Linked DNA regions of Homo sapiens. The protein of the gene in region 1 interacts with the protein of each later gene in a pairwise test. Each region holds a gene or a part of one and is shown on either strand. Other genes may lie near its edges. The genes, in order: FHL3, CREB5, MRM3 and TTLL10.

Region 1 (6,863 bases):
GTGAGGGACAACAGGATCCTACTCACCCAAGGCCAGTCATCCAGCTCTCAGGCTCTGCTTCCAGCCCCAGTTCAGACACACCTGTTTCCCAGGGAGGGAGGAGGACAGATAGGGAACAGGAACAGGGAGTCCTTGTGGCTGATCCCTGGACTTCCCTGGGGCACGTCCTCCTGGGCCAACGAAAATAGAGTGAGCAGAGAAATGTGAGCCTCCTGGGGAATGGAAATTGAGACAGGGAGACACAGCTTCACTGTGGGCGGCTTGCCCCTAGGCCGCTCTCCCTAGCCCAGGTGGCCCAAGCCAGAGAGCTAACTTTCTCTGGCCCCCAGACTCCAAGTCCAAGTAGCTGAACCTTAACATTTGATCATGAAAGTGGGGACTGTCCCCACATATTGACAATCTATTGTGTGCTCTCATCCAATCCTTACAACAATGCTGTGAGGCAGACTCATTCACTTTTCACAGTGAGAAGACTGAGGTTCACAGAGATTAAATGACTACAGATACTAGAGCCTAATGGTGAAGCTCATTTTTGGCATAGGGTGCTATGACTTCTGACTGTCCAGATTTGATTTTTTATTTTTATTTTTTTCCCCAAGACAGAATCTTGCTGTGTCGCCCAGGCTGGAGTGCAGTGGTGCAATCTTGGCTCACTGTAACCTCCTCCTCCTGGGTTCAAGCGATTCTCCTGCCTCAGCCTCCCAAGTAGCTGGGATTACAGGCATGCACCACTACAACCAGCTAATTTTTGTATTCTTAGTAGAGGCAGAGTTTCACCATGTTGGCCAGGCTGGTCTCAAACTCTTGACTTCGTGATCCGCCTGCCTCAGCCTCCCAAAGTGCTGAGATTACAGGCGTGAGCCACCGCCCCCAGTCGGTTTGATTTTTTTTTTTAATAGAGATCGGGGTCTCATTATGTTGCCAGATCTGGTCTTTTTTTTTTGAGACGGAGTCTCGCTCTGTCACCTAGGCTGGAGTGCAGTGGTACAATCTCGGCTCACTGCAAACTCCACCTTCCGGGTTCACGCCATTCTCCTGCCTCAGCCTCCAGAGTAGCTGGGACTACAGGCACCTGCTACCACGCCTGGCTAATTTTTTTGTATTTTTAGTAGAGACGGGGTTTCACTGCGTTAGCCAGGATGGTCTTGATCTCCTGACCTCGTGATCCGCCCGCCTTGGCCTCCCAAAGTCCTGGGATTATAGGCGTGAGCCATCGCGCCTGGCCCAGATCTGGTCTTAAACTGTTGGGCTCAAGCAATCCTCCTGCCTCAGCCTCCCAAAGTGCTGGGATTACAGGCAAGAGCCACCAAGCCCGGCCAACCATTGGGATTTGTATCCTAGCTTTGCCATTATTACCTGTGTCGCCCTTGCCAGGTTACTTAATCTCTCTGTGCCTCCATTTTCTCATCTTTAAAATGAGGATGAAAATATATATTTAGGCCAGGAATAGTGGCTCATGCCTGTAATCCCAGCACTTTGTGGGGCTGAGGCAAGAGGATTGCTTGAGCCCAGAAGTTCAAGACCAGCCTGGGCAACTTAATAAGACCCCTGCCTTTACAAAAAATTAAAATTAAAATAAATTAGCTCAGTGTGGTGGCCCACACCTGTAGTCCCAGTTACTTGGGAGACTGAGGTAAGAGGATCGCTTGAGCCCAGGAGGTTAAGGTTACAGTGAGCCGTGATTACACCACTGCACTCCAGCCTGGGTGACAGAGCAACACACTGTCTCAAAAACAAACAAATATAGATGCACATATATTTAATAAAGTTATTGAATAATCAGGTATGTCAATATATGTAAAGTGTTCAGGACTGGTGCAAAGAAAGAACTCAGGAAGTACTGGCTCTCATTAAGGCTATTTAGGAGAGATTAGAGCCATGCATCAAGAACAGAGATTCCAATACTCTGCCTTTTATCAGGCCCCTTCTGTACTCACTCATAACCCCTTGCTTTCTGAAGGCTCCCCACCTTTGCCCTCCCGTCCCCCAGAGCTGACCTCCTCTTGGTACCCACTCCACCAAGGCTGAGTAGTCTTCACTGCACTCCCCTGGGCTGGGAGTCTCTTACACCTGCAAGATACATCCCAGAGAGGCTGGGCATGGTCACTCATGCCTGTGGTCCCAGCACTTTGGGAGGCTGGGGCAGGCAGATCAGATCTTGAGGTCAGGAGTTTGAGACCAGCCTGGCCAAGATGGTGAAACCCCGTCTCTACTAAAAATACAAAAAAAAAATTTAGCCGGGCGTGGTGGTGCACACCTGCAGTCCCAGCTACTTGGGAGGCTGAGGCAGAAGAATCGCTTGAACCTGGGAGGTGGAGGTTGTAGTGAGCGGAGAGTGCGCCACTGCACTCCGGCCTGGGCAACAGAGCAAGCCTCCATCTCAAAAAAAAAAAAAAAAAAAAAAAAAAAAAAAATCCCAGAAAAAGGCCCCATCCATGGGCTGGATGCTCACTGCCTGGACTCCAGATAGCAGGTGCCTGTGATCCAAACCGAGGATGTTAGAGGGGCATACATACTGAAGCAGTGTCTGGTATCCATTCATTCATCAGATGTTTATTATGTGCCGGATATTGGAGTAAGTACTGAGAAGGCAGTGGGGAACAAAACGGAGCCCTGCCTTCATGGCTCTTACCATTTAGGCAACAACAGCAATAATAAGCAAGCAATGATTTAATTTTGAAAGGAAACCAGACCTGGTGGGTGACTTGGGACCCAGGAACCCAGGCATGATGCAGAGATGGGACGGAAAGGTTCTCAGGAGCCCCAGCCTGGGAGGGTGTTAGTTCCTCCGTGAGAGCTCTGCTACACCCAGCCTGGGGTGTGGGGAGGCCTCTGTGGGCACCTGAATCTTCACTCTAGATGCTAAGGTTATTCCGGGGTTGATTTGTTGTCTCTTGTTTCCACAAACAGCACAGTAGAGCCTCCTGCCTCCCTCCCTCCCCCACCTCTTCCAGACTGAGGCTATTTATTCCTAGTGACAAGCCTGAGGATCCCAGGGGGGGTGGCCTTAAGGACCTGGAGGGGCCTCGTGTCCCTAGCAGGCGCCAGTCCTCCCTCACGGACACAGGGAGGAAGCCAGAGGCTCAGACACCGCAGAGGTCCCCTCCCCTCTCCTCCACCACCCCTGAGGTGCCCCATCCTCTCACACTCCTCACACCCCACCCTAGAAGCCCAAAGATCATGGGGCCGAGGATTAGGGTCTCCCCCGGGCCTCAAAGGTCAAAACTATTCCTGGGCACTGCGGAAACCCAGGCAAGGCAGGACTTCTCAGTGTCAGGAGGCTGCTGGAAGTGGGGAGGTGGTTACCCCTGTTTTTGCTACTCAAAGTTGTGGAATAAAACCCTTTGGAGGTCAAGGCCCTATGGTGGGGAGGGGTCCTCTCTTCGTCCCATGTTTTCAGAGAACACCTTGGTGCCCGCTGACAGGCTCATGACAGCAGAGTCAAAACGTCCTCCTCCAGGCTGGATTAAGGCCGGGCTGAGTGTCACCCCTGGGGTAAGGTGAAGGGGTGGGGGGATCCGAGGAGGCCAGAGGACTCCCCCAGTGGACCATGGTCTGCGGGGTCTCGTGTCGCCGGCCTGAGATGGAATACAGCAGTCTCCCTCTGGCAGCTGGGGATGGGGGGTGGGAGGGGAGGAGAACAGAGGCTGCGGGGAGGGGACAGGGGCGGGGTCCCGGCCGCTTGAAGGTTGGGAGAGCCAGGTTAGGCCGGGCGGGAGGAGGGGGCCGGGCCGACTGGCGGCCGAAAGGGAGGTGGGGGCGGGGTCTGGCCCCCGCGGCGGGCTGGGGGGCCGGGGGCGGGGTCCGGGCGGGGCGGGCCCGCGCTCACTTCCTCGGGGAGGGGTTGGGGCCGCGCTCCCACTCGCCCACACGGTCCGTCTGCAGTCGGCAGCCTCGCCGGCAGCTCGCTCGGCCCCCGCTTGGCCCGGCCCGCAGGTAGGAGCCGCCGAGGGACGCGGCGCCCGGTTCCCGGCCCCGCCTGCGCCGCGCGCTCCCCGCTCCCGCCGCCCGCTTCGAGGTGAGCGCCCCGCCGACCCCGGCTCCCAGCCCTGGCGGTCCGCCCCCGCGCCCAGGCCGGGGAGCGAAGGGACCCGCGGAGGGCTGAGGCCAGCCGCGGCCCCGGTCCCCTGTACCCGCCGGGCTCTGGCCACGGGTGCCCGGGGCACGCCGAGCCCGGGACAGCGCCCGCCGGGACTGGACCCCTCCGGGCTATCGGGCGGGGCGGGGGCGGGGGCGGCAGCGAGAGTTGGGCGGGGGAGGGGGCTAAGTTTGAAATAGAAAAGCCGGAGAGAGACAGACAGACCGACCGACCAGAAGCGCTGGAGAAACTGAGGTTCTCGGAAAGCCCGGTGGAGCGAGAGACCGAGACAGGCAGGGACTCGAGGCACAGGAGGCTACCGAGACCACTGAAACAAGGACACACCGGGCGTACAGAGTTACTGGTGGACAGACCCGAGGCATGGGGGCCGTCCTAGGCTTTGTGGAGCATTTTCAGAAAAAGCATACGTGGGACCCCAGCGAACACATTCCCTAGGGCCCTTCCCCGGGCCTTGGAGGTGCCCTGAGGCTTGGGCGTCATTGGCCTCATGCTGAATCTGCTCTCTGAGGCCTGCAGAGACGCTCAGAGACTAGAGACAGAGACATTCAGGCGTGCAGAGGTGGCGAAAGAGACTTGGATGCAGAGACAGAGAAAGGGAGGTGGTGGGGATTGAGACATTCAGCCATGTAGACAAGAAGAGACCAAGACTTGAGATCCACAGAGGCATGGGCCCCCTGGGGGACAGCCAGTCAAGATACAGAGCCGTCCAAAACCTAAAGACAGAGACTGAAGTGTGCCCAGACACAGAGATGCTGAGTGAAGCAGAGACAGACACCAGAAACTGAGACTAAGTGGGGGCAGAGAGACCTAGGTGGTCTGACAGCTTCCAGGACAGCCCCTGACTTACCCGGGCCTGAACCATTGGGAGGTGAGGCTGTGGGGAAACAGAAACTCTGAGCCTACCGATCCCCCATGAGGCAGAGGCCCTGAGACAGTAAGTTCGAGATCAAGAAGAGCCCCACGCACACACACAGCCACCAAGACAGCCCCAACTTATTTTTGAACTCAAATCTTGGATGGGCTGCCTCAGCCCTGGGGGACCCAGGGTGAATGAACTGTTCCTCTCATGTCCCCAGAGCAGCTGCGGGATCTTGCTCCCCAACCCCCTTCCCTAAACTTCTCTGACTTCCAGGCCACATGGGGGAGAGCAGAGCTTGGGGTTGGTGCCCGGTAGCAGAGGGTGAGGGTTGAGGGAGTTGGATTTCTCCCCTTAAGTCTCCTGTCAGCTTCTAGAAGGTGGGGGAGGGGTCTGTTCTGATCCTGACTCACAGCTGTGGGACCTGGCCAGGGTCCTCCTGGACAGTGGGCATGTTGGGGGTGGGGGCAGAAGGATTGAATGGTTGGCATGGGGCATTGGAAAGGCTTCTGGGTGTCTTCCAATCACAGGGCTAGCAGCTGAGGAGAAGAGCCAGGCTCTGGTGCATCTCCTGTTCCCCTGCCCTTAAAAACTGACCACCCCCATGTCACCATCCGCTTCATCACCAGGGCAGCATTTTTAGGGAGAGGGAAGAGCTCTGGGCTGGGAGGCAGGGGACCTGGGTCCTGATCGGGACCTTGGGCATGAACCTGCTCTATTCCTGGCCTCCTTGTGCTCAGCTGTAAAATGGGGATGATACTCTGTCCTGCCTGCCTTTTGTGAGATCTGATGAGATTGTGGTGGGCATGGACTTTGTGAGTGGCAAAGCAGCATGCAGGTGTCTACATCCGTGGACCTGCATGAGAGATCTCAAGAGTTAAGCTTACTAGAGTCAGGCTGACCGGACTGAAGCGACCACTTTCCCCACTGGTGTCCTCAGCAAGCCCCATGGGCCTGGGGCCCCCTATTCTCTCCCTGGGCCTATGCTGAGAATGTCCAGGTCAAATTTCAGACCAGGCTGGGCACAGTGGCTCACGCCTGTAACCCCAGCACTTTGGAAGGCTGAGGCCAGAGGATCACTTGAAGCCAGGAGTTCAAGACCACCCTGGGCAACATAGTGAGAACCCCATCTCTACAAAAAATAGAAAAACCTAGCTGGGCATGGTGGCACATGGCTGTAGTCCCATCTACTCAGGAGGCTGAGGCAGGTGGTTTGCTTGAGCCCAGAGTTGTTTTTTTTGTTGTTGTTTTGTTTTGTTTTGAGACAGAGTTTTGCTGTTGTAGCCCAGGCTGGAGTGTAATGACATGATCTTGGCTCACTGCAACCTTCACCTCCTCGGTTCAAGCAATTCTCCTGCCTCAGCCTCCTGAGTAGCTGGGCTTACAGGCGCCCGCCACCATGCCTAGTTAATTTTTGTATTTTTAGTGGAGATGGGTTTTCACCATGTTGGCCAGGCTGGTCTTGAACTCCTGACCTCAGGTGATCCACCGGCCTTAACCTCCCAAAGTGCTGGGATTACAGGTGTGAGCCACCTCACCTGGCTGAGCACAGAAGTTCGAGGCTGCCGTGAGCCATGATCGTGCCACTGCACTCCAGCCCTGGCAACAGAGTGAGACCCCAACTCAAAACAAAAAAAAAAAACAAAAAGGCTGAGCGGACACCAGCTTGGCCAACATGGCGAAACTCTCCATCTCTACTAAAAATACAAAAATTAGCTGGGCATGGTGGTGCCCTCCTGTAATCCCAGCTACTTGGGAGGCTGAGGCAGAAGAATCGCTTGAACCTGGGAGGTGGAGATTGCAGTGAGCCGAGATGGAGTTAACTGCGCTCCAGTCTGGGTGACAGAGTGAGACCCTGTCTCAAAAAAAAAAAAAAAAAAAAAATTGGGCTGGCACTGTGGCTCATGC
Region 2 (4,907 bases), on another chromosome or scaffold:
GAAAAAAAGAAAAAATGCAAATGGAATAATTTTCTATTATATTTTAGACAAACATATCATTTTCGAGTATTTTAAATACTGAATTCATAGTTGTTGTTTTTTAAATTCCAACAGTAACAGCTGAATGGTTTAATCTGACTGGCTTCCTAAGAAATGTTTAAGACTCAGCTTTAAAAAGAAGTTAACATTCATATCTCTGTTTTGAAATCAAAAATCATATTTCAAAATTCTTTCCTAGGACCATCTATGTGTCTCCCCTCCCCTCCACAAAAAGGAGAAAGAGTGCATTAAAATGTTTAGTTGGGTTTTTTAATTTTTAATTTTTATGTTATGTTTTGCTTTGTTTTAAGTAAACAAAAATTTTTCTTTCTTTACTGCATGCATAGCACTTAATAAAATGGATTTTTAAAAAATCCACTAGTAATATCAGAATGTCCAGGGAGTGACTGTCACTACAATGATGGTTTAGTTTACTTCTGTTCCACCTTTTGATTGAAATATTTAGTTGTTAGGCTGAAAGCCTCGGCAGTTAAGAACTTGCCTGAGTTTTCTTCGTTCAGCAACTTGACAGTTTGACTGATGTGCATTATATATAGCTCAATTATGTCTGTTTTTTATGCTAAGTAGGAAAACCAACCACACACATTAGCAAACCGGCCTCAACATATAATTAGAATAAACTGTCTTCTTGTTCTACTCAGGGCCTTTAGGTGTGTTCATTCACGGTATGGAAATACAGTAAATGAAAGATTCCAACTAGTTGTCAGTGCTTCTTGAAATTCCAAACAGAAAGATACATTGGTCAAATCCAACACTTGGCTTATCAATATTAAGTCTTTTACCTAAAGGCCCAGCCGTCACCAGACAACAGAATAATCAATCTGCCTGAAAATCCCTCCTCCTTGTCCTACACTTTTTGCCTGTTTGGGAGAATATCTTTGTACTCCATTCTCCTCCCTCAGCCAGTTACTGGGTCACCCATCCATGTGTTCATGAATCAATCATCACGGCCTGCAGAGCACCTGTCCTAAGGAGGGAAAATCCTGTCACACTGCCTCTCCCCATTCGTGTGTGGTTTTCTTGATCGGTGAGATCTGTCTCTGAAGTCACTGCCAGCCTCCCTGGGAACGTCTATAGTGCCTCCCCTGCCTTATGTGATGGGAGTTAACAACTCAGATAAGTACACCTGAGAGCATTTCTATCAGGTAAACTGTCACTTAAATGGAGGTGTCCACATCTTAATTGTTTCTCCTTGACACATTTCTCAATCCACGAAGCCAGGAGAGGTAGAGTGAAAATCCCAGCCATGGATGAATGTACTAATTTGAAAGCCAAGTGTTAAGTCGGATGTTTTCCCGTTACACTACTACTCAGCCCTCTCCTGCGGCCACATCAACGGATGCAAGTCACAGTCTTAACACAGCCTGTGGGAGACAAGCAGTTTGTGTGCTCACAGTATATATTATAGTAATTAGGGTGACTTAGAGCAAATACTCTTCAGATCCTATGTAGTCAGTGAAACAAAATGGAGAGCGTATTCTGATAGAAGGACGTCGACGGTGAATGTTCTGGTGGTTGTTGCCTGTTAAGTAAACTTTAGTGTGTAAGTTGAGTTTGTCATTAAAATCATAAACCAGCTGCGGTAACAGACAAGCCTTTGGCTGGGGAGTTTTAAGCCTCGGTAACTGCTATAAAACTAGCCATCCAGTTAGGATAGAATGTGTTTCTTTCTGGTTAAAAAAAGGAAAAACCATCTAAGAAAATATATATGTATGTATGTGTGTATACAGTGGAATTCAAAGGACCAAAGCAAAATTTGAACAGGAATCTATTAATTTAGAATTTTATAAGATATTTATTAATAAATGTTATTTTTAAACATTCCATTTGAACAGTATTCTGTAGGATCTACTTGTTTTTAAAGTGTTAGTCCATAATAAACTACTATAGTTATGTGTATTTTCATTTTTCAGGGTTTCAAATGGCTATTCTCCATCATTTGGTGGAAATGTTTGCTTAGATCTCTGTGCATAGACATTTCAAGGATTTTTATTGCTCTGTGAGTTATTTTTTAATCAACATTCTGAACAGTTTTTTTTAAACATTTATTTCTGTGTGTTCATTTTTAAAGTAAGCTCTTTCATTTAGGAAGCAGAGTTCAGCTAAAGGGAATCAGTAACTCTAACTGGAACAGCTTTCTTGTAGAAGTGTAAAAACAGCTTCATCTCTGCCTCTCTCCACCCCACCCCAATTTCCTAGAAAGCCTTGCACTATTCAGCTCCCTTAGTGCTTTTTGTCCCTTCCCGAACAATATGCAGTAGCTTTAAGCCATTCAAGCTCCATTATGCAGTATATCTGAGAAGGGAAAGGAAACAACCCATTTAAATTTGAATAAAACCGTGCCTATGCGAACAGTAGCAATTTAGAATCTCTTTTCTGCTTTTAAAATAATTTATATTTAAAAATTGCACTTTAGCTTTTTGATCCCTTTGTATTTCTCTTATTCTCTTTCTAACCTCTTCTCTGTCCTCAAACTTGCCTTTGCTCTCCTTTACAATACCCCCCACCCCTCCTCCAAGGCTCTGAGCGGCATCATTTAAAATACTTTACAGATATTTGCACCAGGTACATTTATGTGCGTCCATTGGTAGCACAGCTGAGACCTGTGTCTCACATCAGCCTAGGTGAAGCCTACTACAAGAATGCCAAGGAGAAGAGCCAGTACACTATATGGTTTATACTCTTTATCCCTTTATTCATAGCATGTTTTTTAAAAATGTTATATTATGCAACAGATGTGAGGCAGCAGCTAAGCTATACTTAAGAATTTTCTCTCACCTTCCAAACCAAAGTGTCCTGAATAAGCCAGGAGACTTATTCTTTTGTGCACCCTGGTGCACATCTGACTGTTGTCCTAGCCATAGACTCTCTGAGGCCACTGAAAGAACAGTGGCCCTATCGATTTCATTCCTAGGTCTCAAAAATACAATGTTGCCTTGTAACATAATTAGGGACAGCACCTCTATTTCACAATTATAATCTAAGGTAGGATAAGACGACACAGCAGCAATAAACTTACAAGTAAAATTCAATACCAAAACAAACACAAAGAAATTTAAAAAACAAAAAACCTAGCTCATCATGTTGTGAAAATGAAAAAGTGAATGTCCATTCAAAATATTTTACTATTTCTTGTGGAGTTTTTCAGTGATGTAATGCTTGTAGCCAAATTGCTTAAAGAGTGTTTATATATTTTTTTCCTTATAAATTGTCTATTTTTTAAAAAAGCTATTTAACCACAGCTGAAGTGGGGGGTAAGGCCAAATTGCCAACACTTGTTAAAAGATTAATACTCTTAAGTGGCACTCTGATACCTTTCCAACTTGTCATCAGAAAGGAATCAATAATTACCAACTGTTGTATTTAGACCAACTTACAATATCTAGCTCATTAGAAGCCAGGATCTAGAAAGCTCCTTCTAAGCCATTTAAGATATTCTTACATTGAGCTTCATATTATAGAACTTTATAGGATTGGATATTTTACAATAGAATAATTTAGCCTCAGGACTGAGAATGTGGAAGCTGAATAAATTAGCTTTAAATACATCATTAAAATCTTATGCACAATAAGCTCATTAGATTCTAGTTTTCTCCTTTAGAATACCAATGCCACAGACACTACAGGAGATAATGAAAGGTATCAGTTGTGTTGAGTGGAGGGAGTTTAAGAGAAAGGACCCTTCCCAACCAGCAGCCAGTAGAAAATACAACCTACTCACCTTTTTCCCTTCTAAGTTCTGCTAAATCACATCTGCCTCATAGAGAAAGGAATGTTGCCTTTGAGAACTGTCTTGGAGAACAGATAAGCTTGAAATGTTCTCTCTAGAGAGGACATAGGGTTTGGGATCCTCTGAAAAGGCCCAGAAAAATAGCTCAGTTCAAATACAATGTTCTAGGACAATTGGAATATAAATATTGTCCAAAAATATAATTAAAAGAAAAAAGTTTAGCACTGTGTAAAGTAAGTGTTAACTGAGGAAGTCCCAAAAAGGTGCTGTCACTTTAAGTTCTGGACTTGGGGTTCTTTGTATTTGTAAACAGCAAAGCATTTGTGTTTGTTTGTCTATTTGTAAAGCAACCACCTTCCTTATTGGAAGGAGAAAAAAAGGGGTACATACATGTAAATACTTGCTGCAGCATTTAATATGTTTAATTTTGTGTTAAGCTTTTTGTTGCATCGTGAACACATTTATTGTTACCAATGGACAATGAGTTCATTAAGACTGTTCAACTAGGTCAGATTTTTACATCTCTTTCTAGCAAGAAGAGACAAGATTTTGTGCATTTGTACAAATGTTAATATCACTGCAATTCCAATATAATAAAGCACTCAAATGCAAATAATATATGTCACCTTTGTATGATGAAATTTGGGGTTGGGGGTAATGACATCTATTCCTCACATAGTCTTGTCAGAGGCATGTGAACCAGAGCAACTCCATCTTGAATAGGAGCTGGGTAAAATAAGGCTGAGACCTACTGGGCTGCATTCCCAGAAGGTTAAGGCATTCTAAGTCAGTGGATGAGATAGGTTGGCCCAAGATACAGGTCATAAAGACCTTTCTGATAAAACGGTTTGCAGTAATGAAGCCAGCTAAATCCCACCAAAACCAAGATGGTGACAAGAGTGACCTCTGGTCGTCCTCACTGCTACACTCCCACCAGCGCCATGACAGTTTACGAATGCCATGGCAACGACAGGAAGTTACCCTATATGGTCTAAAAAGGGGAGGCATGAATAATCCACCCCTTGTTTAGCATATCATCAAGAAATAACCACAAAAACGGGCAACCAGCAGCCCTCGGGGCTGCTCTGTCTATGGAGTAGCCATTCTTTCTTTCCTT
Region 3 (7,359 bases), on another chromosome or scaffold:
GTTTTATGGAAAGAATTTATGGGAAAAGAGAAAAATTGGAAAAAGGCTAATAACAATATTAAAAATGGCTTTGAGTACATGAAATTGCTGTGGTATAGATGAAGTTATTCACATGGGTGTATCACATATCCACAAGTTTCTTTTTGAATCACCATGTTTACTGGTAGAGGTGATAATGATAACCTTTTAGTAAGCTTTTTTTTTTAAGCCAAGCACTACCCTAAACTCTTTATGTATAATTATCAAATATTCAATCCCTTTGTAGTCTGCTCCCAAGGGACTGTACAGTTTTTTTGAATCTTACTAGTATTTTGTCGTATATGATTGCTACAATAAATGGGCTACTGACTGAAGTCAGGAGATGAATGAAATAGTACTTGTACTGAAACATGATACAATCAAAGATTTAGGATTCTTTCTAAAAGATGGTGCAGGTAAAAAGCCTATCCACCACTGAAGGCAATGGAAGGGTATTAGGCGTCTGTGTGCTGTGAGAGAGCCTCCACTTCGGAGTCACAGATGGCCAAAAGCCATTCAGTAGGGCTGAGGACCTTAGAAGTCCTTTACTTCTACTTGGATGTCTGTGGTGATGAGAACCCACTATACGGAGGCCCTACTTATGTCGCTGGATTCTGGGGAGTGTCTGTCTAAAGCCTGACAGGTGCTGCCAGTTCCTATCCATTTCTCCCTTATTCCCTGCCCTCAAATCTAAAATATAGTAACATAAGGATAAGCCAGGAAATGATGAAAGCAGGTATGATGATGAAGTTCAAGATGGGTTGGCCACTGTAAGCACACCTGCCCCAAGTGACAAGCACAAGTTCAAGATGGGCTGGCCACTGTGAGCACACCTGCCCCAAGTGACAAGCACAAGTTCAAGATGGGCTGGCCACTGTGAGCACACCTGCCCCAAGTGACAAGCACGGTAAAAATGAATAACACTTTCACTGAAGCATGGCGTGTGGATTAGAGGGCTGTAGCTAGTGAGAATATGGTTACTTAGCATGAGTAATTCTAGGTACTTTAGTAATCCAAGTCCCCATCCTAGGATCTAAGAGCTCTGAGTGCAGAGGCACAGATCCCTGTGACTCACTGGGTTACAGAGACAAGAGATGGTTCCCCAGAATCTCCTCTCTCAGCAGTTCAAGGATTCAGTTTTCATATCTTAAAACTCCCATGTCAAAAACGTATGAAAAACTTATCTTCTCATATTTAGACCAAAGACTTTGTAACTGCTAATCAACATCGGAGTTACATAAGGTTAAGTCAGATTCAGCCAAATGAAGGAACAGACTAGAAGACAAGGTTCTCTGTTTATTGGGCTAAACGGGGCAGTAAATTGTGGCTTGTACCTCGCTTCTTAGATCTGCTTCTGGAATAAGCAGTTTATTGACAGTTATCACCACATTGGCAGAGGTTTTGCAAAAATGAAGGGCTCAATCTTTCAGTAAACGCTTTCTTAATTTTTAATCTGACATAGAAAGTTGAAGAAGTAATCTAAAAAATAGAAGGTTTGAGGAATAGTGGTTCTTCCTAGAGACCATAAAGAGCCACAACACAAATGATAGTGAAAAACGGGTTTCAATTTCCATTGAAAATACTCTAAGATACACAGGTTTGAGAATTATATTTTTCTAATTGTAACATTTTGAATTTCATTTCAATGCTGCTGTCCTAAGACAAGTATGAGAAATTAATCCTAGGTCTCCACACCTTAAGATACACTGTGTAAGGCCAGGCATGGTGGCTCACGCCTGTAATCCCAGCACTTTGGGAGGCCGAGGCAGGAGGATCACCTGAGGTCACAAGTTCGACGTCAGCCTGGCCAACATGGTGAAACCCCACCTCTACTAAAAATACAAAAATCACCCGGGCATGGTGGCAGACGCCTGTAATCCCAGCTACTGCGGAGGCTGAGGCAAGAGAATCCCTTGAACCCGAGAGGCGGAGGTTGCAGTGGGCCGAGATCGCGCCATTGCACTCCAGCCTGGGTGACAGAACAAGACAAAAAAAAAAAAAGATACACTGGGTAATCACTAACCCATTATTCCTTGTGGCGTTACGAGGTCGGACCAATCCTTGATATCCTCAAATTTCACCTTAATGAGGCTGACACCTTTCAGCTTATCGACTGGCAACTCCTTTAGGTATTCTAGACGGCTAAAGAAGAACATTTTTGGCACAGCTCCAGCCTTGAGAGCGTCTGAAATGAGCCTGCGACCTTCCAGCAGGATCTTCCCTTGTTTTTCCCGAAATGGCCTGGACTTTACTATTGTCATTACACTGCTGTAGATGGAAATAAAAAAAAAAAACAGGTAACTATCAACATCCTTGTTACTGAGACACGCTTAGTTGTAACAGAAATAAAGAGCTACGGAGAGGGCCGGGCGCGGTGGCTCACGCCTGTAATCCCAGCACATTGGGAGGCCGAGGCGGGCGGATCACCTGAGGTCAGGAGTTCCAGATCAGCCTGGCTAACATGGTGAAACAAAAACAACAACAAAGAGCTAAGGAGAAACAGAAGCTAATTCCAAAGACGCTTATTCGGCCCTCTGTGCATAATACAAAAACCAGCGGGCTGTACTGGAAGAAGTCCTCCATCGGAAGGAGGTTAAGGTTCCGCTGTGCGACGGGAAGGGAAACGAGAACATTCGACAGGCTCAAGAACCACATCACCTCAGCCTCCTGTCCCCGGGATAAGCTTTATCGTAGCGAAGCCCAGACTCTTCCCAGGTGCTGGGAGCGCGGGATGCGGACTCCTCGAGCGGTTGTTTCTCTCGTTGCTCCTGGGCACTGGCCTCAGATGGTGCCTTGCGGGGCTGCTTCCCAGGAGCGCGCTTCTGTTCCACCACCTCTCCGGAAGGAAACACCACTTTCACTGGGCTCCGCCGCAGCGCCCGGACCCAGCGCCTCGCGTCAAGGTCCCAAGCCTGGACCACCTGCAGCAACGGTCGCACGACAAACCTCGCGGGTCTCACCAGCGCCGCCATGTTCCCTGAGACCCGGGCTGCGTCACGAAAGCGCGCCGTCGGCGGCTAGTGACGTCACGGCCCGTGGCGCCCTTCGTGGACTGGGCTGTACGGTGCGCGTGACGGCTGCGTGCGGCGGGAATCATGGCTGCTCGCAGAGCTCTGCACTTCGTATTCAAAGTGGGAAACCGCTTCCAGACGGCGCGTTTCTATCGGGACGTCCTGGGGATGAAGGTGCAGGCCGGGGCCGACAGGGGCTGGCGCGCGAGGCTGGAACCGGCGCCCGAGCCGGCCCTGGCGGAGGGAGGGGAAAATGGGTGTGTCGTGAACCTAAGCCGGAGGGTGTCCGACCTTAGGCCCTGCGCGGTGTTCAGCTTCAGGAGCGTGGCGAGTTGCCGTTGGGGATCATAGGCCTTGGAGAAGGGCCTAACACGATTAGTCCCCGCGGTGTGCCCACGCACGTCCTTTCATTTAAGCCACTCGTAAACGTTTATTGAGCCCCGCCCTTGTGGAGCTTACCGTCTACCGGAAAAGACGGTAAATAAAATGTTATATAATGCTTTCTAGTTAATATTTGTGTTTTCCGGTTTGGAGCCTTTGATGTAGATAAAATCAGCGTATTCAGAGTTCTGCTTCTAGCAAGGCTGGTCTGAATAGTCCGTTTCGGATACTCAGTCTCTGAATATATGCTCCAACTCTCAACCCATCTGCTTTTCAACAGCACCCAGAAGCGGTCTGTCTCGGGTCCTGAGGAGCTGTTATTTGCAGGATTCAGTTGGTTGGGGAACTGGGTTTTGGGGACCTCCTTTGATAAGCCAGGGAGGTAGGGAACACACCACTAAGGAAGACTTGAAAGGTGCAAGAGCGCGGTTTAGTGTATAGACGGTGCAATAGACGGGGATCTGAATTCGTCAGGTCATTTTTAAAATATCTGCTATTTTCAGGGTACTACGTTGAGTTTTGGCAACAAAGGTGCAAATGACCCTGATATATATCCTCCATTAGAGCTCATGGCCTGGGTTGGGGTGGGAGTTGGAACTGGATTTGTACGTAGATGATGGTAATGGAAGTCAGAATTTGATAGTGAAAAACCACCAAACTTTCGATAGCAGAAACCACAGAGCTGTCCCTTGTTAGTATTTCCTCGTCGATCAAAAGGTTGTTGCAAAGATTAAACACGTGCCGGCGCGGTGGCCCACGCCTGTAATCTCAGCACTTTGGGAGGCCAAGGCGGGTGGATCACTGGAGGTCAGGAGTTGGACACCAGCCTGGCCAACATGGTGAAACCCTGTCTCTACTAAAAATACAAAAATTAGCCGGGCATGGTGGCACACGCCTGTAATCCCAGCTACTCGGGAGGCTGAGGCAAGAGAATCGCCTGTATCTGGGAGGCGGAGGTTGCAGTGAGCCGAGATCGCACCATTGTGTTCCAGCCTGGATGACGAAAGCAAAACTCCGTCTCAAAAAAAAAAAAAAAAAAAAGATTCAACACCTTATTATATGTATAGTATTTAACATATCGGTAATAGTAGATTATATAAGTGTTAGCCACTATTATAAAAATACAAAAGAAGGAGCGGTTTTCCAACCTGGGTGATGAGGAAATAATTCATGTAGACCTTGTATTCGAGTTGACTTTTTTTTTTTTTTTTTTTTTTGAGGTGGAGTCTTGCTCTGTCGCCAGGCTGGAGTGCAGTGGCGCGATCTCGGCTCACTGTAAGCTCAGCCTCCCGGGTTCACACCATTCTCCTGCCTCAGCCTCCCGAGTAGCTGGGACCACAGGCGCGTACCACAACACCCGGCTAATTTTTAAAAATATTTTTAGTAGAGACGGGGTTTCACCGTGTTAGCCAGGATTCGAGTTGACGTCTAAAGATAGGATATCCACAGGTAGATGAGAGGAGGAGCTACATAGTAAAACTGAAGAGCCAGTGCGGAGATGGCACATGTTTGCGAAGCCGCTGGTTTTATGTGCCTTTAGTTGAGGTTGCTTAGTTGAAGTTAAGGAGATGGGATATCAGGATGGACAGGTCGGCATTGCTTCTAATAGTATCTTGAATGCTATGCTAAAGAATTTGGATTTTATGCTGCAGTAAGATGGGAGCTCACTTATGTTCTTAAACAGGGTGGTGATGGGATCAGTGCTTTGTGCTTTAGGCATGTGCTTTTTTGGTGTTATTAAGGAAGGATATCAATAAGGATTTTTTTATTTTTTATTTTTTATTTTTTTTATGTTGAGACGGAGTCTCGCTCTTTCGCCCAGGCTGGAGTGCAGTGGCGCAATCTCGGCTCACTGCAAGCTCCGCCTCCTGGGTTCACACCATTCTCCTGCCTCAGCCTCCCGAGTAGCTGGTACTACAGGCGCCCGCCACCACGCCCTGCTTATTTTTTGTATTTTTAGTAGAGATGGGGTTTTACTGTGTTAGCCAGGATGGTCTCGATCTCCTGACCTCATGATCCACCCACCTCGGCCTCCCAAAGTGCTGGGATTACAGGCGTGAGCCACCGCGCCCGGCCAATAAGGATGATTTTTAATAGTCTGAGCGAAGCGTTGGGAACTTCAACTGGCAGGAGCCGTGGGAATCAAAAAGGAGGGCTAAAGCTAACACGTTGAGAGCCCGCTGTGTGCAGGGTTCTGTGAGATGCTTTCATAACATCCATTCCCATCACATGTTAGGAGACTGAGACTCAGATTCTAATTTGCTCAGAGTTACACAACTACTAAATGACAGAATTCCAAATCAGACTTTTTTTTTTTTTTGAGTTTGAGTTTTGCTCTTGTCACCCAGGCTGGAGTGTAATGGTGCAATCTCAGCTCATTGCAACCTCTGCCTCCCGTGTTCAAGCAATTCTCCTACCTCAGCCTCCTGAGTAGCTGGGATTACAAGCGCCCACCACCATGCCTGGCTAATTTTGTATTTTTTATATTTTTAGTAGAGATGGGGTTTCACTGTGTTGGCTAGGCTGGTCTCGAACTCCCGACCTCAGGTGATCTGCCCACCTCAGCCTCCCAAAGTGCTGGGATTACAGGCGTGAGCCACGATGCCCATCTTTTTTTTTTTTTTTTTTTTTTTTTTTTTAATTTGAGATGGAATTTTGCTCTTGTCACCCAGGCTGTAGTGCAGGGGCACGATCTCGGCTCACTGCAACCTCCATCTCATGGTCCAAGTGATTCTCCTGCCTCAACCTCCTGAGTAGCTGGGATCACAAGCACACGCCACCACGCCTGGCTAATTTTTGTATTTTTAGTTGAGACGGGGTTTCACTATGTTTGCCAGGTTGATCTTGAACTCCTGACCTCAGGCAGTCCACCCACCTTGATCTCCCAAAGTGCTGGTATTATAGGCGTGAGTCACTGTGCCCGGCCCAAATCAGACTTCTTTAATGCTGAAGGCCACACTTTTTCCCACTGCATAGCACTGCTTACCAATCTAAATAGATTTCACAACTGATTTGGTAGCCTGACCCTTGGTGTCAAGCTGTTCGTCCTTCCACTGCTTCTATCCTGGGAGAAGTGTAAAGCTCATTTGCTTTTGTTCTTTTACAAGTAAAGCTTATAAATGATAATGTTTGTGTTTTGACATTTTAGTCTGTGCTAAAGACGCTGTGAGCAGTACTAGCAACACTTCACAATTTATTCTAAATCTCACACCAGGTTCTGCGGCATGAGGAATTTGAAGAAGGCTGCAAAGCTGCCTGTAATGGGTATGATACCTTGTTTCTTAAAATCTCCTTTAGGCTCTGACTACACCCGGATAACAGAAGACAGTTTCTCAAAGTGAGTATAAAGCAGTGGAATTAATTAAGGAGGCAGTAAATTAGGGAGGCAACTTCAGGAGCGTCGGGAACACATACTGTTTCTCTGCACTCTCATGAGTATAAAGCAGTGGAATTAATTAAGAAGGCAGTAAATTAGGGAGGCAACTTCAGGAGCGTCGGGAACACATTTCTCTGCACTCTCATACAACACCTGTGGGACACAAAGGGATTCTCCAGCTCTCTAACACCAGCCGGCTGTCCTGTTATTTAATTGATTCTGACTCTACCTGGAGTTAATGTCAGATCCTGCAAGTTAAGGGCTCAGTCCCAGAAGATTTTCCGCCACGTCAGGCGCCGGTCACAGTCTGGATCTTCAGGATTTCCGATGACCAACTACAAGTCAGGGCTCCCGCTCCTGCTTCCTTGGGTTTGATAGTCTGCTACAGTGGCTCATGGAACTAAGGGAAACGCTGGAAACACTTACTTACATTTACTGGTTTATCATAAAGAGTACGAGTCAGAAATGGCTGGACAGAGGAGATACACAGGGCAGGGCATGGGGAGTGGGTGGCAGAGCTTCCATGCTCTTCTGGGCAGGCTCCAATCCAGCACCTCCCTACGTTCAGCATCC
Region 4 (7,030 bases), about 37 Mb from region 1:
CCACCGGCTCTTTTGTATTCTCTGTGCCTTTGCTTTAAAAGCACGCGGCTCTCTGAGGGGTCCTGTCTCCATCACCCCAGCCTTTTCCAGGCTGGTTTGTTTCCCTGTTTCTCCCCTTTTCTCTTCCTCTGTGTGCGTCTGTGTGTCTGTGTGTCTACATGTCTGCGTGTCTGTGTGTGTCAGCGTCTGTGTGTGTGGGTGTCTGTGTGTGTGTGTGGGTGTCTGTGTGTGTGTCTGTGTGTACGTGTGTGTGTAGACGTGTCTGTGTGTAGGTGTCTGTAGGTGTGTCTGTGCATGTTTATAGGTGTGTGTGTGCATGTCTGTAGGTGTGTCTGTGCATCCATGTGTCTGTGTGTGTAGGTGTGTCTGTGCATCTGTGCAAGTGTCGACATGTCTGTGTGTGTCTGTGTGTAGCTGTGTGTCTGTGCGTGTGTGTGTGTAAATGTGTCTGTGTGTCATTCTTTTTTTTTTTGAGACGGAGTCTCGCTCTGTCGCCCAGGCTGGAGTGCAGTGGCACGATCTCAGCTCACTGCAAGCTCCACCTCCCAGGTTCAAGCTATTCTCCTGCCTCAGCCCCTCAAGGAGCTGGGACTACAGGCGCCCAACACCATGCCCGGCTAATTTTTTGCATTTTTAGTAGAGACAAGGTTTCATCATATTAGCCAGGATGGTCTCAATCTCCTGACCTCATGATCTGCCCGCCTCAGCCTCCCACAGTGCTGGGATTACAGGCGTGAGCCTCCGCGCCCGGCTGTCCTTGTGTCACTCTTCTTCACACTTGGGAGTCCCTCTGATGATGCCTGTTGGGCCTGGGCAGCCCCTTTGGCTGAGAGTCAGTACTTTAGAGGATCCCCTTCCCCAGCAGGAATCCTGGGTGCTGAGGGCCCATGAGAAGGAGCTGAGGTCTCCCATTTAATGCAGAGTCTTGCACGCACACACCTGCTCCGTGCCTGCGCAGGGTCCAGCCTCTTCCAAAAGTCCTCCTGTTCTGGGTGGGGAGGGGTCTCAGGGCTCCTGACTTCTTCCATTCTTGCCCAGCCCACCCTAGGAAGAGGGCGTGAGGCTCTCCCAGACACAGGTGGGGGGCCCAGCCTGTGTTCCGCTCCTCCCTGAGGACGGGTCCCAGTGGCCCCACCCGACTGGGTCATCGTGCAGACGGCTGCCTCAGTTTCCCCACCTTCCCCTGCCCGTGGGCTTCCTCGTTGTCTCCTTCCCTCCTGTCACTCAGGCGGGGCAGGGAGGGGCAGACACAAAGGCTTCCTGCGGGTGAGATTGGTGCCGAGCTCTGTGCCCAGCCTGGAGCCTCAGGCCTACCCCAGCCTTCTCCAGCCTCAGAGCCCCCACAGCCTCTGCCCAACACTGCCGTGTGCTCCCCTGTCTCCTGGGCGAGTTCCTTCAAACCCTTGAAAGCCCTCACCTAAGCCGGGCACAGTGGCTCACACCTGTTATCCCAGCACTTTCAGAGGCCGAGGCAGGCGGATCACCTGAGGTCGGGAGTTTGAGACCAGCCTGACCAACATGGAGAAAACCCATCTCTACTAAAAATACAAAAAGTTAGCTGGGCATGGTGGTGGGTGCCTGTAGTCCCAGCTACCTGGGAGGCTGAGGCAGGAGAATCGCTTGAACCTGGGAGGCAGAGGTTGCAGTGAGCCTAGATCGCCCCATTGCACTCCAGCCTGGGCCACAAGAATGAAGCTCCGTCTCAAAAAAAAAAAAAAAGTTCTCACCTCCCAAGCAGCCCCAAGATGGGTTTGTTTGCTGGAGACAGAGGTAGAAAGATCTGTCGAGGAACTGGCTGAAAATTCCTAAGTTGCAACATGGGAAGGTGTTGCTGGAGACAGTGTCCTGGGGGTCGGGCCTGGCACCCAGGGGCGGCCGCAGAGGAACCCTGATGGCAGGTACCAGGCGGCTGCACACAGCCCACAGCTGGGCTCCGGGGTCAGCAGCGGAGACAGAGAAGACCCCTGCTCAGGCCAAGGAGCCCTCCCACCCTCCATTCTTCAGGCAGGCGCCCCACCCAGCAGGCCTGACGCTGCCCCTCCTTCCAGCCGGCACCCAGGCCGAGCTCAGCCACACCTGAAGAGCCGCTCCGGCCAGGGAGGACATGCCCGGCAGAGACAGGGTGCAGAGACAGCCTCGCCCCCACACGGCGCCAGGCCCCACAGCTGCCACAGAGACGGGAGCCAGCCGCACGCAGAGGCTCAAGCCCACGGCCCTGGGAGGCGCCCTTTCCTGGGCAGGGTGGGCCTGACTGCCTGCTCCATCCAAGCACTGGGGCCTCGGGCCGCGCGGAGGTCCCACAGGAGGGTCAGAGCGGCATCTTCCCTTCAGGGCCCTCGCCCGGGCACCCCCCGGCCAATGGACCACAGCTGCACCCGGTTCATCCACCGCCGGGGACCACCCACTCGGACCCGAGCCGGCTTCAAGAGGGGCAAGAGGCCAAGGATCCAGCAGAGGCCTCGGGCTCGAGTCTCAGGTGAATAGAGCAGCCCTGGGTGGCCTCCTACCTCTCCAAGGCCAAGGCCTCCCTGGGACGGGTGCCCCATACCCAAGGAAGTCAGTCGGCCTCATGGGGCAGGGGCAGGATCCACACATGGCCATGCCCCGCTGCTCCGAGAGAGGGGCCAGCTGTGGGCGCCGGGCTCTGCAGGCACAGAGGGGAGCTGTCGCGCTCCGCGGCCCAGGGTTCCGCCTGGCTGGCACCACCCCTGGAAGGGCAGCCCCTCGTCTCCCGGCCTGACAATGGCCCCTTGGGTCACCCATGACATCATCATGGACATTGTGACCCCTGCCCTCCAGGGACCATCCCTGCGTCACGTCTGCACCCAGCACCGGCCTCACAGCCCGGCCCCTGCCCTGCACCAGGCCACTGCCCTGTTGGTGAGGAGGGTCGGAGGGGCGACCTCCCTGCCCCCTGCTCCAAGCTCCCCACCCCCACCTGGAACCTGCCGGCAGGAAGCCTGGCCCTGGAGGGTGGTCACGGCCCCTCCCCAGATGTAAGCAGTCCCCAGGCCGCCTGGTGGGGCCAGAGCTCGGGCTGAACTTGAGCCCCAGACGGGCCAGGGGGATTGTCCAGGGTATTGGAGAAATGGGCTGGGAGCAAACTGGCTGAGCCATGTCCGGGCTGAGTGGGCAGCTCCCGTAGCCACCCCGGTGGGACCCCACCCCGTTCACAGGCCCGGCCCACGAGAGGCCAATGGGGAGCAGCCAGGAGGAGGGACTCCGGTGTCAGCCAAGCCAGCCAGACCACGACGCAGATGGACACTGTGGGCCGGACCTGGAGGGGGCAGAAAGAGCCTCTGCCACACCCGGACCCCCTGGGCTCCTGAACAGCCACCGGCCTGCAGACTCGGATGACACTAACGCCGCCGGGCCCTCAGCTGCCCTCCTGGAGGGGCTCCTGCTGGGGGGTGGGAAGCCATCGCCCCACAGCACCCGGCCGGGGCCCTTCTTCTACATTGGAGGCAGCAACGGGGCCACAATGTGAGTAGCGGCCCTGGGCGCCCGTGGTCCCACTGAATACCCACCGCCTGCTCCCGGGGCCCAGCCCGGCCTCCGCTGGCCGCCCGCCATCCCCAACCCCTTGCCTCGGCCCCCAGGTCACCCCCGCCCCCACCCCTCGCAGCATCAGCTCCTACTGCAAAAGCAAGGGCTGGCAGCGCATCCATGACAGCCGCCGGGACGACTACACGCTGAAGTGGTGTGAGGTCAAGAGCCGAGACAGCTACGGCAGCTTCCGGGAAGGTAGCGGGAGCCGGCACCAGAGGCGGGCAGCCTGCAGGGGCCTCCTGGGCCGGAGCACAGGGCAGGTTGGAGGGGTGGGGACCGAGGTCCTGCGCTCCCTCCACACGAGCCCTGGCCTCTGACCTCCAGGAGAGCAGCTGCTGTACCAGCTTCCCAACAACAAGCTCCTCACCACCAAGATCGGGCTGCTCAGCACCCTTCGGGGACGGGCACGGGCCATGAGCAAGGCCAGCAAGGTGCCGGGGGGGGTCCAGGCCAGGTGAGTCTGCCCCTGCCCCTGCCCCCGTCCCTGCGCCCGCCCCTACGCCTGCCCCTGCCCCTGCCCCTGCACCCGCCCCACCCCTGCCCCTGCGCCCGCCCCTGCCCTTGCCCCTGCCCCTGGCCACCCAGGCTCCCAGGCTGGCTCCAGCCCCTGCCCCTGCCCTTGCCCCTGCCCCTGGCCACCTGGGCTCCCAGGCTGGCCCCAGCCCCCACCCGTCAGCACCTGCCTCCACCTTCCACCTGTCCTTTAAAGGGCCAAACCCCTGTCCCATAAACCCACCCTCTTCCTCGTGGCTGAACGGGGAAGATCCCACACGTCCCCAACCCACTGGGCCTGACACCCACCCACCTGTCCATCTCACAGACCCACCCAGGTACAACCCACCTGTCAATCTGCCTTCACCCCAAACATCCATCCAATCCATCCACAATCCCACACCGTGCCCACCGTCACCTGTGGGTGCCCTGAGTGAGGCCGTCCATCGCTCACCCAAGTCTGGGCCATCCATCCTAGCGACTTCGTCCTCCTGCTCCCAGCCCTGCCCACTGCCCTTCTATGGACCCACCTATCCCTCCTCACTTCATTTGGCCCAGACATTTTTGCACCAAGCACCCGCCCAGCCAACCGCAGCTGCCTCCATCTGCACCCCCCGCCCCTGGTTGCCTGTGACACCAGCTTTACACCATGTCCAGCGTCCACTTCCAGCCTAGAGCAACACAGCTGTTTCCCCCAGGCACCGCCGTCCACCCAGCCACCTCCTTCCACCACAACTCACAGTCCGCCCACTCACCACCCATGCCCCATCCCCCAGTCCCCACCCGCTCCAAGCACCATGAGCTGGCCCCTCAGTCCAGGCCCTCTGTCCCCTGGGCTGCAGGCTGGAAAAGGACGCAGCAGCGCCCGCCCTGGAGGACCTCCCGTGGACAAGCCCAGGATACCTCAGGCCACAGAGGTAGACTCAGCCCAGCTGTGAGGGGCCCTTCAGACCGAAGTTCAGACCTAAACCTGGTGTCGTCTGAAAAGGAGAAAGCGGGGCGGGGGTCCCACACAAAGGAAAACCACGAGCTAGAGTCAGAGGTTCAGCCAGGCCAGGCCGAGATCCACGCTGACCCCCCAGTGCACACAGAGCTGGGGCAGGGCCAGGGGCTCAGGCCACGCTCTCCGCCCATCCCAGCCGTGAGGACACTGCCATGAGGTGGTGGCTCACAAATGGCTGAGACGGTGCCAGCCGGGAGAGCAACCATGAGGGAAAAAGCAGCCAGCGGGAGGGGCCCGGGTGGGGGTCAGCGGCCAGAAGGATGCAGCCAGCAGCACAGCCCGTTGGGGGGGTGCTGCAAAGGGGCAGGAAACGCAAAGTCCCCACAAGGAGAACGGCCGCGGGCGCCAGGTGCCACTGCCCACACTCCCTCCCGCCGGGCCACAGGCTGGGCCTCAAACCGCCCACCCAGCCAGGGGCGAAGGGACAGCAGCTCATCCTCCTGCCTCCCTGCCCTGCAGGGTCCTGAGAATGGAAGAGTTTTTCCCAGAGACCTACCGCCTGGACCTCAAACACGAGAGAGAGGCCTTTTTCACCTTGTTTGATGGTGAGACGCTGCTGGCCGGACACCAGGCTGGCCCTGGGGAGACAGGGTGAGGGCTGGACCAAGGCGGGGGCTGATGAGGGCAGGGCTGGGTCTGGAGGGGCTGCGTGGGGCTGGGACGAGACGAGGTGGTCAGGAAGGGGCCAGGGCTGGGCCTGGTCTGGGTGGGGACTGAGGAGTTGGAAAGGGGAGGGTCTGGCCTTCGTGGAGGTTGGGGTATGAGGGCACTGGGGCCAGGGCTGGAGCTTGGTCCGGGTGAGCGTGGTCGAGGCACGGGCAGGAGCTGGGGCCAGGCGTGTGGTTAGCGCAGGGCCAAGGTTGGAATGGCCGGGCCGAGGGTCGCAGCCTGGAGGGGAGGGTCCTGGTCGGGCCCTAGGAGGGGCGTGGCTGGGTTGGGGGCGAGGCCAGGGGCTCAGGCCGCGCTCTCTGCAGAAACCCAGATATGGATCTGCAAGCCCACAGCCTCCAACCAGGGCAAAGGCATCTTCCTGCTCCGGAACCAGGAGGAAGTTGCCGCCCTGCAGGCCAAGACCCGGAGCATGGAGGACGACCCCATCCACCACAAGACGCCGTTCCGGGGGCCTCAGGCGCGGGTGGTGCAGAGGTGCGGCGGCGGGTGCCCGGAGGGGTGAGGGTCTGGGCTGGCTGACCCGGGCCCCACTGGTGCAGTCAGCAGGGCCGCCGAGGAGCCCTTGGTCGTGGAAAGCAGCCGCACCACCAGCCCCTGTGCAGACCACAGCCGGGCCCCCGTGTAGCCAGCAGAGGGGAGGGGTCACACCAGGCCGGGGTCACAGACACAGGATCCAGGGTTGAGGGGTTAGTCAGTTTGTCCTTCAGCTGGGGCCCCCTCTGTCCTGCAGGTGGCCTGGCCTGGGTGGCCTCCCGGCTGCCAGCCCCCCTACTCCCCGGCCCAGCCAGCCAGCTGCAGCCTTCAGGCCTATGGCCAAGCTGACCACTCCTTCCCTGAGTGGGAAGGCTTCCTCCAGAAAGCCCCGTGGCTGCACGAGGCTGAAGGTTTAGACCTGTCGACCTCACCCCCGGCCCTCGTAGAGCCTCACTCTGACCACAGCTGCCGTCTGCCGTCCCCAGCTTCCATCGGCTCCTCCCTCGCGTCCCTCCACCTGGCGAGCTCTCCGCCTGGCGCACCCCCTCTGCCTGCTGTGCTCCCTCTGCCTAGCGCCCGCCTGGCGCGCTCCTTCCCTTCCTCTCCAAAGCCACCTTCATGCCCTCCTCCTCCAGGCAGCCCTCCAGGCTCCTACTGCGGTTATGCCCTGGAGCACCCATCAGGGTGCCAGGCCTTTCCTCCCAATTCCCCTGACATATTCAGGCCCAGAAATGCCCCCTTTCCCTGGAGGTCACACCTGGGACAGAGGCGGGGCGCTGAGGAAATGGAACAGGCCCGGGGTGGGGTGTGAGGGGATGCAGGCCAGGCTGGCCCCGTGGC

What was found.
Region 2: the proteins of FHL3 (region 1) and CREB5 interact in binary tests that used the Homo sapiens proteins (3 or more experiments, as listed by UniProt).
Region 3: the proteins of FHL3 (region 1) and MRM3 interact in binary tests that used the Homo sapiens proteins (3 or more experiments, as listed by UniProt).
Region 4: the proteins of FHL3 (region 1) and TTLL10 interact in binary tests that used the Homo sapiens proteins (3 or more experiments, as listed by UniProt).

Annotation. Positions count from the first base shown.
Region 1 is NC_000001.11:38,002,512-38,009,374, reverse strand, and holds the start of FHL3 (four and a half LIM domains protein 3), read left to right. Parts: upstream 1-3,860; 5' UTR 3,861-4,018; intron 4,019-6,863. UniProt on the Homo sapiens protein: Recruited by SOX15 to FOXK1 promoters where it acts as a transcriptional coactivator of FOXK1.
Region 2 is NC_000007.14:28,821,489-28,826,395, forward strand, and holds the end of CREB5 (cyclic AMP-responsive element-binding protein 5), read left to right. Parts: 3' UTR 1-4,406; downstream 4,407-4,907. UniProt on the Homo sapiens protein: Binds to the cAMP response element and activates transcription.
Region 3 is NC_000017.11:778,010-785,368, reverse strand, and holds the start of MRM3 (rRNA methyltransferase 3, mitochondrial isoform 1 precursor), read right to left. Parts: upstream 3,017-7,359; 5' UTR 2,991-3,016; coding exon 2,677-2,990; intron 2,287-2,676; coding exon 2,042-2,286; intron 1-2,041. Other genes in the region: GLOD4 (glyoxalase domain-containing protein 4), read left to right, coding at 3,114-3,203, 4,631-4,755, 6,625-6,747. UniProt on the Homo sapiens protein: S-adenosyl-L-methionine-dependent 2'-O-ribose methyltransferase that catalyzes the formation of 2'-O-methylguanosine at position 1370 (Gm1370) in the 16S mitochondrial large subunit ribosomal RNA (mtLSU rRNA), a conserved modification in the peptidyl transferase domain of the mtLSU rRNA.
Region 4 is NC_000001.11:1,176,858-1,183,887, forward strand, and holds part of TTLL10 (inactive polyglycylase TTLL10), read left to right. Parts: intron 1-2,048; coding exon of another isoform or gene 2,049-2,358; coding exon 2,359-2,476; intron 2,477-2,507; exon of another isoform or gene 2,508-2,698; intron 2,699-2,799; coding exon 2,800-2,880; exon of another isoform or gene 2,881-2,996; intron 2,997-3,176; coding exon 3,177-3,483; intron 3,484-3,625; coding exon 3,626-3,744; intron 3,745-3,873; coding exon 3,874-4,003; intron 4,004-4,883; coding exon 4,884-4,958; intron 4,959-5,503; coding exon 5,504-5,589; intron 5,590-6,018; coding exon 6,019-6,190; intron 6,191-7,030. UniProt on the Homo sapiens protein: Inactive polyglycylase.